Linked DNA regions of Homo sapiens. The protein of the gene in region 1 interacts with the protein of each later gene in a pairwise test. Each region holds a gene or a part of one and is shown in the gene's direction. Other genes may lie near its edges.

Region 1 (7,053 bases):
TGGTATTATACTCCGCTGCCAAAAGACTTTCTCTTGAACTGGATACAAATTTCTCAATCTGATATTTGAAGTCCTCATTAATGCAGCTCAAATCCTTCCTTCTAGTCTCTCAGCATGCTTGCTAACTATGACCTGCTGGTGAGCCAAATTGACTACAGGGCCCCTAACATACCTTATACTGTCTCACGGGTTTCCTCACTCCTGCTTCACATGGATGTACATTCTCTATGCTCCCCACTGGCCAAAAGTCTACCCTTCCTCCAAAGCCCAAGTTAAACACAACCTTCTTCATTAAACTCATCTTGCTATAATCTAAACGTGATTTTTTCTGCCTCTAAACTCAAAGGAAATGTTATTTAGAATTTTCTTAGGGCTCCTATCACATACAACCTTGCATCTGTGGATTGTGGATATTTGTCTTTCACACCAGTTTTCTTCTACGTTATCTGAAAGCAGAAGCTTTGACAGTCACCTTACATTTCGAATAGACACTGCCACAGGATCCTGCATTCAGTAAACACCCCAAAAACATTTGTAAATTTTAACAGACTATTTACAAAAGTAGCTCCTACTTGAATTTAAGACACAAAGCATACAAAATCAGCTTTGAGCTTTCAGTATATTGATATTCAAGCAGGCAAGGTAAGCACCTGAGCTTATAAAACAAATCTCTAACTTTAGAAGGAAAAATAACTTGTTAACCAAGGGAATATGGTAGATAGTGCACAAATACAAACCACACTCACTTCATTTTCCTGGGCAAGTCTTAAAATTTCATCGAGTGTTACAAACGTATCATTTCCTCTGACTGCATCTTTCTCCATAAATCCAAGATGAATATCTGTTGCAACTAATATTTTAAATGTGTTTTCATCATCACTATATTAAGAAAGAAGAAACATTTCAATATATTAATAATTCATTAAAGGATATTCAAACAAATTGAGACAAACTTATAAAATAAATAATAACAGTTATAGAGTAAAATCATTTTTTTTAGCCTTAGAGTTCATCTGAAAATCTGAAGTATTCAACGTTATCATTAACATTACAGTTTTCCTAACCACTAGTTCAATACAGAACAAATGTACATAAATCTTTACAAGGTTCTATAACTGCTTCAAAAATTTATAACCTTGTTATAACCAGTTTTACAAACTCATGTAACCCAGGCCCAAAAGTTTGCTTGTTTTCCTCAGATAAATAAACTTGTTATTTATCTGACTTCGTACTCTTCCAGGAAAATCGAAGTTAATTTAAAAAGCCTTCCTCTAAGTTTATGAGTCAATTTTATACTAATATGCAATAATTTACATTCAGGGCCTTGAAGACACTTGCATGACTCTACTCTCTACAGAGTTAGATTTCATTAATAAAGTTGGCCAACACAGAATTGTTTCAATTTGAATTTGGTAATATTCAAAGGTACTTTAATGTGAAGTAGCAATGTAATAGTTATTAATACTCTTACACTAAATTTAATTGTATGAAATACTTTTATTTTTATGATCTCATCTCAACCCTCACAGATAAAGAGTCAGGCATTATTATCTCTGACAAATGAGAAGGCTAAACCCAGAGAAATTAACTGCTTTATCACATAACTAGTGACAGAAACAGGACTAAAACCCATGATGAAAACTCAGGCTATTTTCAATAAACCACAATGAATTTTTAAAAAATCTCTGTATATATCTCCAAAATTCAAATCTTTACAAACAAAAGATATTTCCACAAACGATTTCTCTTCAAAAACTTCAAAAATGATATGCACACAGTTCTCACTGATATATCCAAGAAGGTAGGTCAGATACTTTTCAAATCATAATACTACATGTTTCTGTAGCAATTTATGAAGTATTTTCTCATGAATTCTCTCATTTAAGCCTCAAAATTAATCTGAAAAAGGTATAATTATTCCAATTATACCAATGGCAAAATTGAGGCAAGGCTCAGAGAACTGCTGACTTGCCCAAGGTCACACAGCTAGTAGGGTCCAAGGACTTGAAACTAGGGTAAAAGACTCCAAGTCTAAAGTCTTTCCCACATAACTTTTTTTTTTTACGATCTCGGCTCACTGCAACCTCCGCCTCTCGGGTTCAAATGATACTCCTGCCTCAGCCTCCTGAGTAGCTGGGATTACAGGCATGCGCCACCACGCCTGGCTAATTTTGTATTTTTAGTAGAGACGGGGTTTCACCATGTTGGTCAGGCTGGTCTCCAAATCCTGACCTCAGATGATCCCGCTAGCCTCGGCCTCCCAAAGTGCACATAACTTTTACAGTCCTTTTATTTATTCCCATTCCATTCAAATTCATTTCCAGCTTATTTAATACTAGAGGAATTTACTCTAAAAATCTTAAACAGAACTGCATTGACTAATAAGAATTTGTCAGGAAAATTCAAGAATATTTATCACTTCAATAATTTAAGATGAAGCCTAAGAACATAAACAATACTATATCAATATATCAAATTACTGCAAGACTCCAATCTATAGCTGCATATTAGCTTCCAGTTAACAAACAGATAAATATTTAAAACATTCCAAATACCCTTTTTGATGACTAATATTTCTGTTCATAAACAGGTTCCTTATTTACTGCTTATTAAATAAGTTTTCTTTTACTGTGATCACAGTTGACGAGCTTTAGAAACCCCAAATAACAAGGGATTCCAGAAGTCAGGTGCTTACAGTGCATCTGCAGTACTCATTTTTATGGTCAGTCAAGCTCCTCTGGGACCAGGTTCTTCTCCAAGAACCCCTGGGTACTGTACTCAAATGTCAGAAAATGCACTCGATTCCAAATTCTAGAAATTCTAAAAACAAAATTACATCATAAAACACATTTTTTAAAAGCCTGCACGTATTTAACCAACATGATTTACGCTGCACAAGGTACAGACGTCTTAATTAGACTGGCAAATTTAGAAGTCTCATTTTCATCTAAGCACCCACTATACTTTTTTTTAATGAACTGAGCATAGAAAATAATATATCTCCAGTGTACATCCTGTTTCCTAGTTTCACCAAGATGATTAAACTCCTATTTTCCTTTCCCGTGCTCTTATGGGAAATTAATGTATGCTAAATAAATGGGCAGAAAGGGTCACATACGGTTCTGGTTCAACACACAAACAACTCTAGATGTGCAGATATTTTTAAGTTGCACGCATAGGTTACTCTGGAGAACAGAGGCAATCCTGTATTTCCTATTCAAACCCCACGATTTTTTTTAAAGGACCTGGCTAGTTTGGAAAAGGGAACGGGCCCGCGTTTAAAGCGAGTGTAAATAAACAAACACGTGGTCTGCGGAGGAACACCTTTAAGCACCAGCAGGATGACTGAAAATAGCCAGGTTTGGGGAAGAGTGGCTGCCACCGCGAGACAACCCCCACCACATCTGGAGCTCCAGATTCCGTCGGGATTCCAAGCCTCAACACGCCCTCACCGCAGGGAACCTCGGAATCAGAACGCTGAGCCCGCCAGGACCCCTCCCCTGCCCACTCGGCCCGCTCTTCCCGAGGTTCCAGTTAACTCTGGGCTTCCGCCTGGGAACCTGCAGAAACAGGAGACGAATGCGATTCCTAAATTACCCCACTGCTGGACTCTTCGAAGCCCCACAATCGCGACCCAAGGCTGTCTTCTTTTCGGGAAGAAAGGGCAGGATCCGTGAAAAGAAAACAACACGGTCTGAACTTGCCTCTGAGAACCCGCAGGGCCGTAAACCTGAATTCCGCGGGAGAGAACGGCGTCCGTTTCTCTCGCGACACTTCATGGATAACGTAGATGCTTCAAGTCCAGTTCGGCTCTCATTGGCTACCGCACGCAGTGAGGGGGCGGGGAAAGTAGCGGCGAGGCCCCGCCCTCACGCAGGAGCCAATCCTGAGCAGGCTAGGAGACGAACCCGGAAGTGAGATGCAAGGCGGCGATTTTCCCTTCTGTCAGGTGGGTTGTTATTCCCTGTCCCGGACCTCGCTTTTTGATGGACCGGCGCCATCTAAGAACTCCTGAGCCCGTGGGGGTGGGTAGCCTGTGGACACAGGCCGAGCCCTGCAGGTCAGGCCGCTTCGTGGTCCCCAGGTAGGACCGAAGCCGCTTCTCCGCTCTTGGCTGTTTGGAAGGCCGCAGGCGGAGCTCACGGGCCTGTGAGCTCCCGGCTGGTGGCAGAGTGCCGGAGCTGGATCCCCTCTCCCTCCCTCCCAGTCGCCAGACCCTCTACAGGTGTCGCCCCTAGGTCCTTGAGTTCAGCACATCTGCACTGCTTTGTGCTGAGAGCAGTAAGATGTATAGTGCAGCGAAAAATAATGTAGAACTTTTGAATTAGAACGTCTGCCCTTTCAGTTCCATTGAAGGGTCCTTGATCTAGGGCAAGTTGTTTTAATCTATCTGAACCTCCTTCACCAGTAAGGTTTATAGCCCCGCCTATCACTGAGTTGTTTGTAAGGAGTTGACATAGTTCGGATCTCTCTCAAAATAGGATATGCCCTTTAAGTTAGGAAACATACCCTGACATTCCTGATGGAATATCAGGAATATCATCATCAAGTCATCAGTTTTGTTTCTTAACTGTAAGTCGGGTAGATGCGCCTAGGCTTGGCTTTTTAAACTAAATATACCAGTAAAATTTTGTACATAATTTTTTGTATCTGGATCTGTAAACTCAAAATTTATATAAAGGGAGTTTTTATTGAAAGGAAAAGCATGTTGGGGGAGAGGGTAAGATCTGTGGTATAAGGTTACTATATTTGATATAATTACAAGTGAACTTTTATTTATTAGCATCTGTTAAGTGTTTAATGAATTGATGTATGGTCATTTTTGTGTTGCAAGGTTCAGGAATTAGTTTGAGAATCAAAGAAAAAGTGGAAGCTCCAGGAGAATTAATAAAACACAGAGCAATTCTGATTGGATATCTCTGATTCCAAGGGTGTCTCTGATTGGGTGACTGAAAAGCCGGATTGGCCTTAGGAATACTTTAGTAAAATTCTTACATTTTACAATAAAGTAACAGGACCAGAAAAGTTACTGGACATGAGTAATACATTTAAACTTGAGTTTAGTGCTATTGCCACTAGTAATAAAGTTTAATACCACATTAAGATTGTATACTGTTAAACTTGTGAGATTAGGTATCAAGAAATCAGTATCTTGGGGTTATGCCTAACTCTGGAACTTCTCAGAATCCATTCCAGGCAAAATCAAGTGACAAGACTTTAATTAAATGTAATGCTACACATACTTCTTAATGCCTTCTATAGACAAGTAGGAGATAAATATAAGTTAAATGTGGTCCTTATCTTTCAGCTTATAATCTTTTAAGGGGCTAAAACAAGAACAAAGTTAGAGGTGAAATGTAGCACCAAAAAAAGTAGAAAGCAGAAAGCGATCTAAATGAGAGGATCAAGAAAGAATGAAAGAGATAACATCAGAGAAGAGCCTTGAAAGACTGATTATATTTCAACAAATAGAGTTGAGAGGCTGGGAATTCGTATTTGTAAATTATCTATTGGTTATTCTCCTTTTCTTTAATTGATTAAGGTTTATATGTTGTGTAACCCTTTAAGCTGATATTGGTTTAAAAATTAATATGGCAGCTTAGCAGAATAAACATCAGTTCCTTCAGGAAGCCTTCTTTAATCCCTTAGGACTAGGGGAATTATGAACCTCCTGTATACTCATGGTTTCTAGACAAGGTCTTGTAGTAGTACTTATCATGTTGTCTTTGCCAGACACATGATGTCTTTGCCAGTCACCTACACTAGAGTAAGCTTCCTGAGGTGAAGACATGGATCTTGCTCATTATTGAATCCCAGTACCCAGAAGTTGGCACATACCAGACATTCTATTCATATTAGTTGAATGAAGGAATGAATGACAGCCAAAATTCAGTTGAAAACAAGGACCCAACTAAGAACTATAGTTGCCTATCAATAAACAGGACTACTTTTTAAAGCAGTGAATTTTCCTAGGCCTGAAATTATCAAAGTAGAAATAGGATAATTAGTGTAGATGCTGTGATAAAGATATATGTACCGATGACAGATTGGAACAGATGTCCTTTTGGGGGCTATTCCATCTTCAAGAATCCCTGATTCTTCGAAATAGTATTTTTAGGAATTAGAAGTTTTTATTTCTGCTCTATATTATCTGTGTGTCTAGTTTATAAAAATCTTGAATGCACCTGTCTTCATTGTATTAGTTATACTTCAAAACCTTTAAGCATTCATCACTGTTAGCATAACACCATCATACCTAAACCAGTAGATTAAAAATAATAGTTATAATAATATAATTGACTTAGAAGAAAACAACAAAAGTAAGAAGCATTAGACCACTATTAGATCATAGTTTGTTGTTTTCTGTCAGCATCAGTATTTAGTGTATGTAAGGGATATCATGAGAAAAACAAGAGTTTAGACAGGGTTTAATTGTATATGTTTGCAAGACTTATCTATGCAGTTGATAAAGCCTGAATTATTGTTTTACTAATAACTTTTGTATTTGTGTTTTCAGATCTTGATGAACAAAGCAGTCATAATTCATCTCTAGAAAGATTTATATCCTGGCATTTGAAATGCTTTTTATTTAGAATAGTAGTAAAAAATGGAAAAAGAAAAAGGAAATGATGATGGAATACCAGACCAAGAGAATTCCTTGGATTTTTCTGAACACTTTAACCAACTTGAATTGTTGGAAACACATGGACACCTTATTCCTACTGGTACTCAAAGTCTTTGGGTAGGCAATTCTGATGAAGATGAGGAGCAAGATGACAAAAATGAAGAGTGGTATCGATTGCAAGAAAAAAAAATGGAAAAAGACCCAAGCAGATTGCTTCTTTGGGCTGCTGAAAAAAATCGGGTAAAAAAAAAAATTACAGAGGGAAGTGTGACAGTAGGAAAAGCACTGGGTTCAAGCCAGAAGACCTGCCTTTACTGTTATGGCCATCATACCTATCTCTTGATTGTGAGGACCAAATGAGACAATGTACATGAAAGCACATATTAAGCTGCAAAGTGTCATGCTAGGTATTATTTGGGGGTTTAAGG
Region 2 (6,623 bases), on another chromosome or scaffold:
TTCAAGCGATTCTCCTGCCTCAGCCTCCCAAGTAGCTGGGATTACAGGCGCCCGCTACCACACCTGGCTAATTTTTATATTTTATTAGTAGAGATGGGGTTTTACAATGTTGACCAGGCTGGTCTCGAACTCCTGACCTCATGTGATCTGCCCACCTTGGCCTCCCAAAGTGCTGGGATTACAGGCGTGAGCCACTGCACCTGGCCCTCTTTGACCTTCTTAACCCAGAGTCTCACTTTTCGAGAGGTTTCTGTGTAGCAAGACGGGGTAAGTATGTCCCATTTGCATTCACACGATTTCTGGAGGTATTGGTGATGTTGGTCCCTGCAACACCAAAGGAAGAGAGGGAGCAGAGGACAATTTGTAGTGACAAGAAGAGACTGGATCCAGTCCCTTGGGGAAGAAGATTCCTTTTCATCTCTTCCTCTCATGCCTGCTCATCTTCCATTTCATTCTCAAATCTTTAGGGGAAAGGGAGAGGAGAGAGACATTGCTGTTTCCCCACTTTCCAGTCCAAGCATCTATCCCAACAGATAAGCAAATTTCACTTGTCATCCTCTTTATGTATCTTTCTCAAATGTCTTGTTCTCTAGCCAGGCTTAAGGATATAATCTTCCTGGTTTGTGGCTCTCTTTCGTCTTGATTCCTTGATGACTGCCTCCAAAGAGCTGAGCTCTGGCACAATTAGACTTGAGGGAGATAGTGTGAGTCAGTCAACAAGCATGTAGTATCTACACTTTGGGGGAGAGCCTATACTCTTTCTTATTTCTTTTTTTACAAATTATTATTTTGAGACAGAATTTCTCAAATTCCTTTCTACCTCAGGAAAGGAAAGGAAATTGGATAAGGCGACTTTGTCGCCAGGCTGAAGTGCAGTGGTGTGATCTCGGCTCACTGCAACCTCTGCCTCCCGGGTTCAAGCGATTCTCCTGCCTCAGCCTCCTAAGTAGCTGAGACTACAGGCACACACCTCCACACCAGCCTAATTTTTGTATTTTTAGTAAAGACGGGGTTTCACCATGTTGGCCCGACTGGTCTCAAACTCCTGACCTCGAGTGATCCACCCACCTTGGCCTCCCAAAGTGCTGGGATGACAGGCATGAGCCACTGCGCCTGGCCACTCTTTCCTATTTCTGAATCTTCACAGGTTGTTGGTCCCTTCCTAGTCCTGTGTTTCTCAAGTTAAGACTAGGGGGAATCTACAGGTCCATGGCTATCTTCTCTGGGGAACTCTTCTAAAACTTTAAGTTTGTGCTTACCTCTTGATGGGCCATATTTTTAAAAAGAGAAATATTTTCATACATGATGATTTGGATTAGGTTTTTTTTAGGGGTTTCAATGCCTATATTTGTATTTGTGTTTATTTATTTATTTATTTTTTGAGACAGAGTCTTGCTGTGTCGCCCAGGCTGGAGTGCAATGGTGTGATCTTGGCTCACTGCAACCTCCGCCTCCTGGGTTCAAGCGATTCTTCTGTCTCAGCCTCCCAAGTAGCTGGGACTATAGGCGTGTGCCACCACGCCAGGCTAATTTTTGAATTTTTAATAGAGACGGAGTTTCACCATATTGACCTTGTGATCCGCTCGCCTCGGCCTCCGTGCAGTGGCGCGATCTCAGCTCACTGCAACCTCCGCCTCCCAGGTTCAAGCGATTCTCCTGCCTCAGTCTCCTGAGTAGCTGGGACTACAGGCATGCGCCACACCAGCTAATTTTTGTATTTTTAGTAGAGACGGGGTTTCACCATGTTGGCCAGGCTGGTCTCAAACTCCTGACCTAAAGTGATCCGCCTGCCTTGGCGCCGTGGCTCACGCCTGTAATCCCAACACTTTGGGAAGCCGAGGTGGGCAGATCACTTCTGGTCGGGAGTTTGAGACCAGCCTGGCTGACATGGTGAAACCCCATCTTCACTAAAAATACAAAAATTAGCCAGGCATGGTGGCAGGTGCCTGTCATCCCCGCTACTTGGGAGGCTGAGGCAGGATAATCGCTTGAACCTGGGAGGCAGAGGTTGTAATGAGCCGAGATCTCGCCAGTGCACTCCAGCCTGCGTGACAGAGTGATACTCCGTCTCAAAAAAAACAAAAAACAAAAAAACAAAAACAAACAAACAAAACCAGGGAGAGAATTGTTTTGACACAAGTCTTTGGCTAATGATGAAACCGTCTCCCTTCCTGGCTGTCCTGGCATGGTTTTTATAGTCTGAGGCACAATGGTGAGAGCAAACTTAAGAGGGAGCCAAAGTGAGGTACTCAAGAGAGGGATCCTTCTTTCCTGGAGAACTGTGGTAGCCCAGGCTGTGTAGGTAGCTGGACAAGCAAGACTGAATCACAATAGGTCTCTACATCTTCTATTAGGAGGAGAACCTGCAACATCCAGTGGAGCAGGTCACACCAGTTATACATGTAAAATGTAGGATAAACTAAAGGGGCACAGAGCCAGGGGAGAAGACAATGGGATGAGACTGTTCTAGAATCTCATCCCATTGGTTCATTGCTGGGTGTGGTGGCTCACACCTATAATCCCAGCACTTTGGGAGGCTGAGATGGGATGATGGCTTGAGGCCAGGAGTTTGAGACCAGCCTGGTAAACACAGCAGACCCCATCTCTCTAAAAAAAAAAAAAAAAAAAGAAAAACATACGGTTTATGAACCAGCAGCATCTGCATTAACCAGCTTATTGAAATGCAGAATCACAGGCCCCACAACAGACTTCCTAAATCATAATCTGCAACTTAACAAGTTCCCTAGGTGATATGTATGCACACTTATGTTTGAAAAGCACTAAGATTTCTTGATGAAGGAGGACTTGAAAGGCAATGATGGATGTGAAAGGAAAGGTAAAGAGAAGCCTCAGGTAGTCACCCAAGGGACAGGGCCGGTTGGAGAGAGAGTCCCGAGGTTTTATCCTGGAGAACACCCTGTACTGAATGAGCTCTGAACATAAAGATAGTTAGCATAGGAGGGCCTGAAGTCTCCAGATAAAAGGCTGCTGCCACTATCATTTACCACGACCTCTGCCATTCTCCACTCTATTGTCATCCGCCCCCAGTCTCCATTCCAGGACTTCTCTACACTTTGACTTTTTGTTTGTTTGTTTGTTTGTTTGAGACGGAGTCTTGCGCTGTCGCCCAGGCTGGAGCGCAGTGGCACGATCTTGGCTCACCGCAAGCTCCGCCTTCCGGGTTCATGCCATTCTCCTGCCTCAGCCTCCCGGGTAGCTGGGACTATAGGTGCCCGCCACCACGCCCAGCTAATTTTTTGTATTTTTAGTAGAGACGGGGTTTCACCATGTTGTCCAGGCTGGTCTCGAACCCCTGACCTCAAGTGATCCCCCCGCCGCCCCGCCCCCTCCCCCCGCCCCGCCCCCCCCCGCCGCCTCGGCCTCCCAAATTGCTGGGATTACAGGCGTGCGCGATGCCCGGCTTTTTATTTATTTATTTATTTATTTTTGAGGCGGGAATCTTGCTCTGTCGCCAGGCTGGATTGCAGTGGCACCATCTCGGCTCACTGCAACCTCCGACTCCCTGGTTCAAGCGATTCTCCCACCTCAGCCTCCCAAGTAGCTGGGATTACAGGCACACGCCACCATGCCCAGCTAACTTTTTGTATTTTTAGTAGAGACGAGATTTCACCATGTTGCCAGGATGGTCTCGATCACCTGACCTCGTGATCCGCCCACCTCAGCCTCCCAGAGTCTCAGTTGCCAAAGCTGGAGTGCAATGGCGCGATCTCGGCTCACTGCAACCTCCGCTTCCCAGGTAAGCCATTCTCCTGCCTCAGCCTCCTGGGTAGCTGGGATATAGGCGCCCGCCATCACGCCGAGCTATTTTTGCATTTTTAGTAGAGACGGGGTTTCACCATGTTGGCCAGGCTGGTCTTGAACTCCTGACCTCAACCTCCCAAAGTGCTGGGATTACAGGCGTGAGCCACCGCGCCCGGCCCACCTTTTTTTTTTTTTTTTTTTTTTTTTTTTGTTTGAGACGGAGTCTCTAGTCTCGCTCTGTCGCCCAGGCTGGAGTGCAATGGTGTGATCTCGGCTCACTGCAACGTCTGTCTCCCGGGTTCAAGCGATTCTCCTGTTTCAGCCTTCCGAGTAGTTGGGATTACAGGCGCGCGCCACCATGACCTACTAATTTTTGTATTTTTAGTAGAGACAGGGTCTCACCATGTTGGCCCACTTTGACTCTTGAGCAGCCTGGCCAGCCCGACCGCGCCAAATTCTGTTCGATTCTGCCTAGTTCGGTTGCTCTGGCCTAGTTCAGTTGCTAAGGCCTGGAGCTTCATGGTTGCGGAGGAAATGATGTCACGTTCAATAGGCGGGCTAACCAGATTCCTCCCTTCTCCCGATTGGCTGCCAGGAATTTGACTAGATTCGGAGTCTCGCGGGCTCCAGGGTTAGTTGTCAGTATCTTTCCCAGTTGTTCCGCCCCCTACCCCCGCCTCCCGCACCGCGCCCCTCTCCGGCTGCCCTCTCCGCGTGGGGCAAGGCTCCGAGGGCAGCATTCAGTAGCCATTTAGCTTTGGAAGGAGAGGTGATTCGAATGGCCCGGCTCCTCCTGTCACCATGCTAGGCACTTTGGCCGCGCAGGTACTTATTGACCCGACCGGGTGTCCGTAGTTGGCGCGGCTACCTTAACCGCAGGGAATTGTGGAATTTATAGTTCTAAATTATATGTGGGTGGAACGGGGAAGCTGGAGCAGATTTTTGGAGGAAAGCAAAACTGGGGACTTTCAGGACTAGGGGCCTGGGTCTCAGAAGAATGGGAAAGGACGAGAAAGGAGTCTAAATAAGAACCCTGCTATTAGCATTGTTTGGTTTTCTTTTCAGGTGCTGACCTGAACCTGGTTCATCCCTTTCTGACCAAAACTGTTCACTCACCGTGGAAGGGACTAAGCATCCATATGGAGACGCCACCAGTCAATACAATTGGAGAAAAGGACACCTCTCAGCCGCAACAAGAGTGGGAAAAGAACCTTCGGGAGAACCTTGATTCAGTTATTCAGATTAGGCAGCAGCCCCGAGACCCTCCTACCGAAACGCTTGAGCTGGAAGTAAGCCCAGATCCAGCCAGCCAAATTCTAGAGCATACTCAAGGAGCTGAAAAACTGGTTGCTGAACTTGAAGGAGACTCTCATAAGTCTCATGGATCAACCAGTCAGATGCCAGAGGCCCTTCAAGCTTCTGATCTCTGGTACTGCCCCGATGGGAGCTTTGTCAAGAAGATCGTAATCCGTGGCCATGGCTTGGACAAACCCAAACTAGGCTCCTGCTGCCGGGTACTGGCTTTGGGGTTTCCTTTCGGATCAGGGCCGCCAGAGGGCTGGACAGAGCTAACTATGGGCGTAGGGCCATGGAGGGAGGAAACTTGGGGGGAGCTCATAGAGAAATGCTTGGAGTCCATGTGTCAAGGTGAGGAAGCAGAGCTTCAGCTGCCTGGGCACTCTGGACCTCCTGTCAGGCTCACACTGGCATCCTTCACTCAAGGCCGAGACTCCTGGGAGCTGGAGACTAGCGAGAAGGAAGCCCTGGCCAGGGAAGAACGTGCAAGGGGCACAGAACTATTTCGAGCTGGGAACCCTGAAGGAGCTGCCCGATGCTATGGACGGGCTCTTCGGCTGCTCCTGACTTTACCCCCACCTGGCCCTCCAGAACGAACTGTCCTTCATGCCAATCTGGCTGCCTGTCAGTTGTTGCTAGGGCAGCCTCAGTTGGCAGCCCAGAGCTGTGACCGGGTGTTGGAGCGGGAGCCTGGCCATTTAAAGGCCTTATACCGAAGGGGGGTTGCCCAGGCTGCCCTTGGGAACCTGGAAAAAGCAACTGCTGACCTCAAGAAGGTGCTGGCGATAGATCCCAAAAACCGGGCAGCCCAGGAGGAACTGGGGAAGGTGGTCATTCAGGGGAAGAACCAGGATGCAGGGCTGGCTCAGGGTCTGCGCAAGATGTTTGGCTGATTAAAAGTTAAACCTTAAAAGAGACAGGAACTTGTGAATTGTGGTCTGTGCTGTGAGATTTGGGGGTGGGGGGCCAGAGGGAAGGTTTCAGCCCATATCCCATTCTCAGCTTTTGGCTTCCTAGGGGAGGTAGCAGTGGTCACAGTGCGCCCCTTTTGAGGGGCTTATCTATCTCCGAGGACACATAGAAGCTGTCTAAACTAAACTTAGTAGTGGCTGGGGGAGATGGTGGACCTTAATACTGGGTACTACATCTCCCAGGCGCTTTATCACTGGAGCCTGTTTGGCGCATGCGCTTGGCGGTATGGCACTGTCTGGAAGTTACTTCCTGCTGCTGTGCTCCCATTGGGCCCGCCTACACAGTCATCCGCATCTGTTGATTCACGTGCTCAGCACCCAGGTCTCTTACTGGTCGGTAGAGCTTCCGGGACGCCCCCTTTTTTGAAAGAGTCAACTGATTAGTTGGTGATGGGGAGAGGCGGGCCTTGGGAACCGTCTCCTGGTTGGGGGGTGGGGGGGAAAGATGGCGGAGCTGATGCTGCTCAGCGAGATTGCTGACCCGACGCGTTTCTTCACCGACAACCTGCTTAGCCCGGAGGACTGGGGTCTGCAGAGTGAGGCACCGGGGAGGGGAGAGGGCTGTGGCAAACTGTCCCTGAGGCACGCGGGAAA
Region 3 (4,026 bases), on another chromosome or scaffold:
TTTGTTTGTTTGTTTGTTTTTTTTTGAGATGGAGTCTCACTCTGTCACCCAGGCTGGAGTGCAGTGGCGCCATCTCAGCTCACTGCAAGCTCCACCTCCCAGGTTCACGACATTCTCCTGCCTCAGCCTCCTGAGTAGCTGGGACTACAGGTGCCCGCCACCGCGCCCGGCTAATTGTGTGTGTGTGTGTGTGTGTGTGTGTGTGTGTGTTTAGTAGAGATGGGGTTTCACCGTGTTACCCATGATAGTCTCGATCTCCTAACCTCGTGATCCACCCGCCTCGGCCTCCCAAAGTGCTGGGATTACAGGCGTGAGCCACCGTGCCCGGCAAGGGCTTTGTTCATTAGGATCAACAAAGTGCTTTGTCTAATTCCTGCAAAATGGCAAAGACCCAGCCCATTTCCATTACTCATTCCAGGCTCATGCTCAGGAAAACTAATAACGTTCTCTTTGACAAAACAATTTCCTTAATTTTCTAGGATGAATCTTGAACATGTTTAGCTCAGCCTTTCAGATATTTATTCTTTAAATTACCATCCTGTCAAAATTGCCTTTACGCACTGATCCAGAATCACCAAGGCAGTTGCCACGATGCCTCCCAGGACTGTGGGTGACTGGGCAAACTGGTAATGACCCGTTGGCTCTGCTTCACACACACACATACACATTGACACACATAAATGTACACATGCATATATGTGTGTACAACACAACTATAAAACATAGAAACATATACCTGTACATATGCACATGCTTACATACACACATATCACAGATGTGCATGCACACATACACATGCACACCACCTTTTACAATATGCCTGACACATTTGAGGCACATTAAAATGCCTTGGCAGGCCCAGCCCTATAGTTCTGTAAGGTTTGGCAGGCCAAAGGCTTCGGATGTCTGCAGGATACCATTGAAAAAATGTTATCTTCCCCTTCTATATGTTTCTTATGCACGAGCACAGCTAAGAGCAGCCAAATAGTAAGCTTTAAAGAAAAGAAACCTGGAAAAGTGAATGTGCCTTGCAATTTAAAAATTGCTAACAGTTTCACAGTGGGAAAATTGCATTTGTTGGAATTTTCCAAGTCATAAGCAAGAAGAATAGCATAGACCCAAAACGACAGAGATCTCTTCCAAGGTATGGAATTGTGGAAATTTATTTAGAATATTTGCTTGGTGATCCAGAGAAGGGGGAAAGAAGTGGTGAGGAAGAATATATGGGGTGATCCCTCCAAATTGCCAACTCCTCGTCTTAGGAAGAAGTGGGCAGTTTCCATTGATCCCTAGCATCAGTTTGACGGGAAAACCGGTGCATTTCATCAACCTCAAGGAAAGGAAGTGCCATGCATGGAGGCCTGGTGATAGGCAACATCCATTTAGAAGAACAGTCACACAAGCAACAGAAGAACTATCCAAGACTAGAAGCTTAGAAGCTTATACCAAACTCTCTGTCTCTCTCTCTCTCTCTCACACACACACACACAGAGTGGATGGGAGGGGACATTAAGAGGAACCCTAGTGCAGTTCCCCCAAAAAACCTTGGCATAGAGTATAACAGGGAAAAAGTAATTACTGGGAAGCTGAAAACAATCAAATATGTGAGGAATGACTGAATATGAGCTGAGGATAATGTAAATTGTTCTGGATTGTCTATAAGATAAAGATACAGAGCCTGAATCTATGTTTTTCTGAATAAAGAGACCCCATATTCTCTTTTGAATTATTGACCTATAATTCCTCTTCAGCAGCTTTGAATACACTCAAGTTCTCTTCCTATTGTTTATGATCCCATAATACAACCACCCACTATTTGTTGTGGTTTACAATCCAGCTTAGAACCCTTGAGCAAAATTATTGAATTATTGAATGCTAGGCCCAAACAAAAGAAATTTCAGCTTGGTTTTAGTAATTTCTTGATCAAACTTCTCTCATTCCTCTAAATGTACAAAGGTTTCAAAGTTGTAAAAAATATGTCTACATAGCCAATGCTCTTAGTATTTTTAACAGCAAAGATAATCTCTGCCAATAATTATTAATGACAAAATAGTGATAACTGTTCAATGTTGCTTTAACAGTCCAATTGTAGTAGGTGAGAAAACAAAAAAGAAGAGAAGCTATGTTGAATATTTAGTAATGTTGGAAAAGATCCTCACCCTAGACATAAAATAGTTTAAACATTTAAACATGGCCCCTCTCTTATTGTCATTGCTAGTGAAAGAAGTTCCTGAAATTGCATATTACATTGTAAAGTTTTGGGCTAAATCACAATACATTTTTAAGTTGCTTCCATGGCAATAGATCGTAAGACCACAGCTTGTCAAAGTAACCACTAATTCAGTATTCAGAAACCTTATCATCTGTTCCTCCAAAAAGACCCCATAGTTAATGTTGTGTTTCCCAGTATTTTAGTTGGGTTTCTTCACACTTAGGCAAGTGGGTGATTCTGGTCATAATAAACTATTTTCAAACTAGGAAAAAGTATCCAAATGCTAGAGCACATAATGAGTTCAGCTTGGTCAGTTTTGAGACAGATAAGCATAAAACCCTACTAGAAAAAAATAATAGTCAAACCTAAAGCTTTAAAAAATGTGAGTCACATCACTTTTCTCCAGGAAAGGCAGAACGTGCTCAGGGTGGAATTTAATCAAAAATGTACCCAGAACAATTTCCCACAAAGAGCTGTAATACTTTGCAGCAAGGGGCATTAATAAACTCTAATTTTTACCGAAAGTCAAGAGACACACAGATCTTTTTTGGTACCCTCTACATCATCATAGCAAGGCCCTTCTGAACATTAACAAGCCTAGATGTTTCTACTGCTTATTTGCAGTATCTACAGGGGAATGGTTCGTGGATATAAACAGAAATGTTTTATCTGAAGAGGCTGTGTATGCCACCCCAGACCCCTGCATTTCTTAATATCTATAAAAATATGACTAAACTTGTTACATTTGAGGCAAATATGTACAGTATTTTTCCCTTTTAAAGATAGTTTAAAAAATCAAGGTAATAAAAAACGGCCAACTCTTTCAGGAAAAAAAAAATCCGGTATTTTGTACTACTTGAGTTTCTCTAATGCCTAAAATATGCATTTAAATCATCCCACACCTACACAGAAACAAAATCAGCAGGGAAAACCATCCCACTGATGATTGGCAATTCCACCGTTCCTCTCCATCTGACCAGCTTTCACCAGAGGGCGATCTTTCATGCTTGCACATCGAGTTTATACAATGTAGAAGCCCCCAAGTCACCTGGGAAATGGCTCATGCCAAATACATGGAGTCCTTAGTTGACTATCTTTTCATATTAAAATCCCATCTTCCAATGAAGCATCCTGTTTTCAATACTGATATCAAATTTCGAATGTAAAGGAGATTTCAAATGTATTGCTTTCACCTTTTCTTTTTTATTCATTTATTTTTAATTGACATAAAAATTGTATATATTTATGGGATACAATGTGATGTTTTGATATATGTATGCATTGTGGAATGATTAAATCAAGCTAATTAACATATCTATCATCTCACATATTTCTCTTTTTGCTTTCACTTTTTCGGGTTTATTTCTAATCCTCTACTAAGCACACAACAAAGAGTCAAATGTCGGTGGGCCAGGGGAATATCTCCAGTTTGATTTTTTTGGGGGGGGGGGACAGAGTCTCACTCTGTCACCCAGGCTGGGGTGCAATGGCGTGATCTTGGCTCACTGCAACCTCTGTCTCCTGGGTTCAAGCGATTCTCCTGCCTCAGCCTCCCAAGCAGCTGGATTTACAGATGTGCACCACGCCCAGCTAATTTTGTATTGTTAGTAGAGACGGGGTTTCACCATGTTGACCAGGCTGGTTTTGAACTCCTGACCTCAAGTGATTCACCCGCCTCGGTCTCCCAAAGTGCTGGGATTACAGGTATGAGCCACCGCGCCTGGCCTTTTCTTTCTTTTTTATGTCCAGGTATTTCATTTCTCTTTAAGAGTAATTAGTATGGGTTCTTCAGTGTTGTTTATGTTTTGTTTTGT

What was found.
Region 2: the proteins of ANKRD49 (region 1) and FKBPL interact in binary tests that used the Homo sapiens proteins (3 or more experiments, as listed by UniProt).
Region 3: the proteins of ANKRD49 (region 1) and PTCHD1 interact in a two-hybrid assay, tested with the Homo sapiens proteins (one study listed by BioGRID and IntAct).

What each region holds. Positions count from the first base shown.
Region 1 is NC_000011.10:94,490,087-94,497,139, forward strand, and holds the start of ANKRD49 (ankyrin repeat domain-containing protein 49), read left to right. Parts: upstream 1-3,897; 5' UTR 3,898-3,949; exon of another isoform or gene 3,950-4,084; intron 4,085-6,517; 5' UTR 6,518-6,607; coding exon 6,608-6,865; intron 6,866-7,053. Other genes in the region: double-strand break repair protein MRE11, read right to left, coding at 747-879, 2,696-2,715. UniProt on the Homo sapiens protein: Induces HBG1 expression. May have a role in spermatogenesis where it promotes autophagy in response to serum starvation, via the NF-kappaB pathway.
Region 2 is NC_000006.12:32,128,059-32,134,681, reverse strand, and holds FKBPL (FK506-binding protein-like), read left to right. Parts: upstream 1-4,393; 5' UTR 4,394-4,587; intron 4,588-4,827; 5' UTR 4,828-4,901; coding exon 4,902-5,951; 3' UTR 5,952-5,975; downstream 5,976-6,623. Other genes in the region: ATF6B (cyclic AMP-dependent transcription factor ATF-6 beta), read left to right, coding at 6,475-6,565. UniProt on the Homo sapiens protein: May be involved in response to X-ray. Regulates p21 protein stability by binding to Hsp90 and p21.
Region 3 is NC_000023.11:23,400,849-23,404,874, forward strand, and holds the end of PTCHD1 (patched domain-containing protein 1), read left to right. Parts: 3' UTR 1-3,526; downstream 3,527-4,026. UniProt on the Homo sapiens protein: Required for the development and function of the thalamic reticular nucleus (TRN), a part of the thalamus that is critical for thalamocortical transmission, generation of sleep rhythms, sensorimotor processing and attention. Can bind cholesterol in vitro.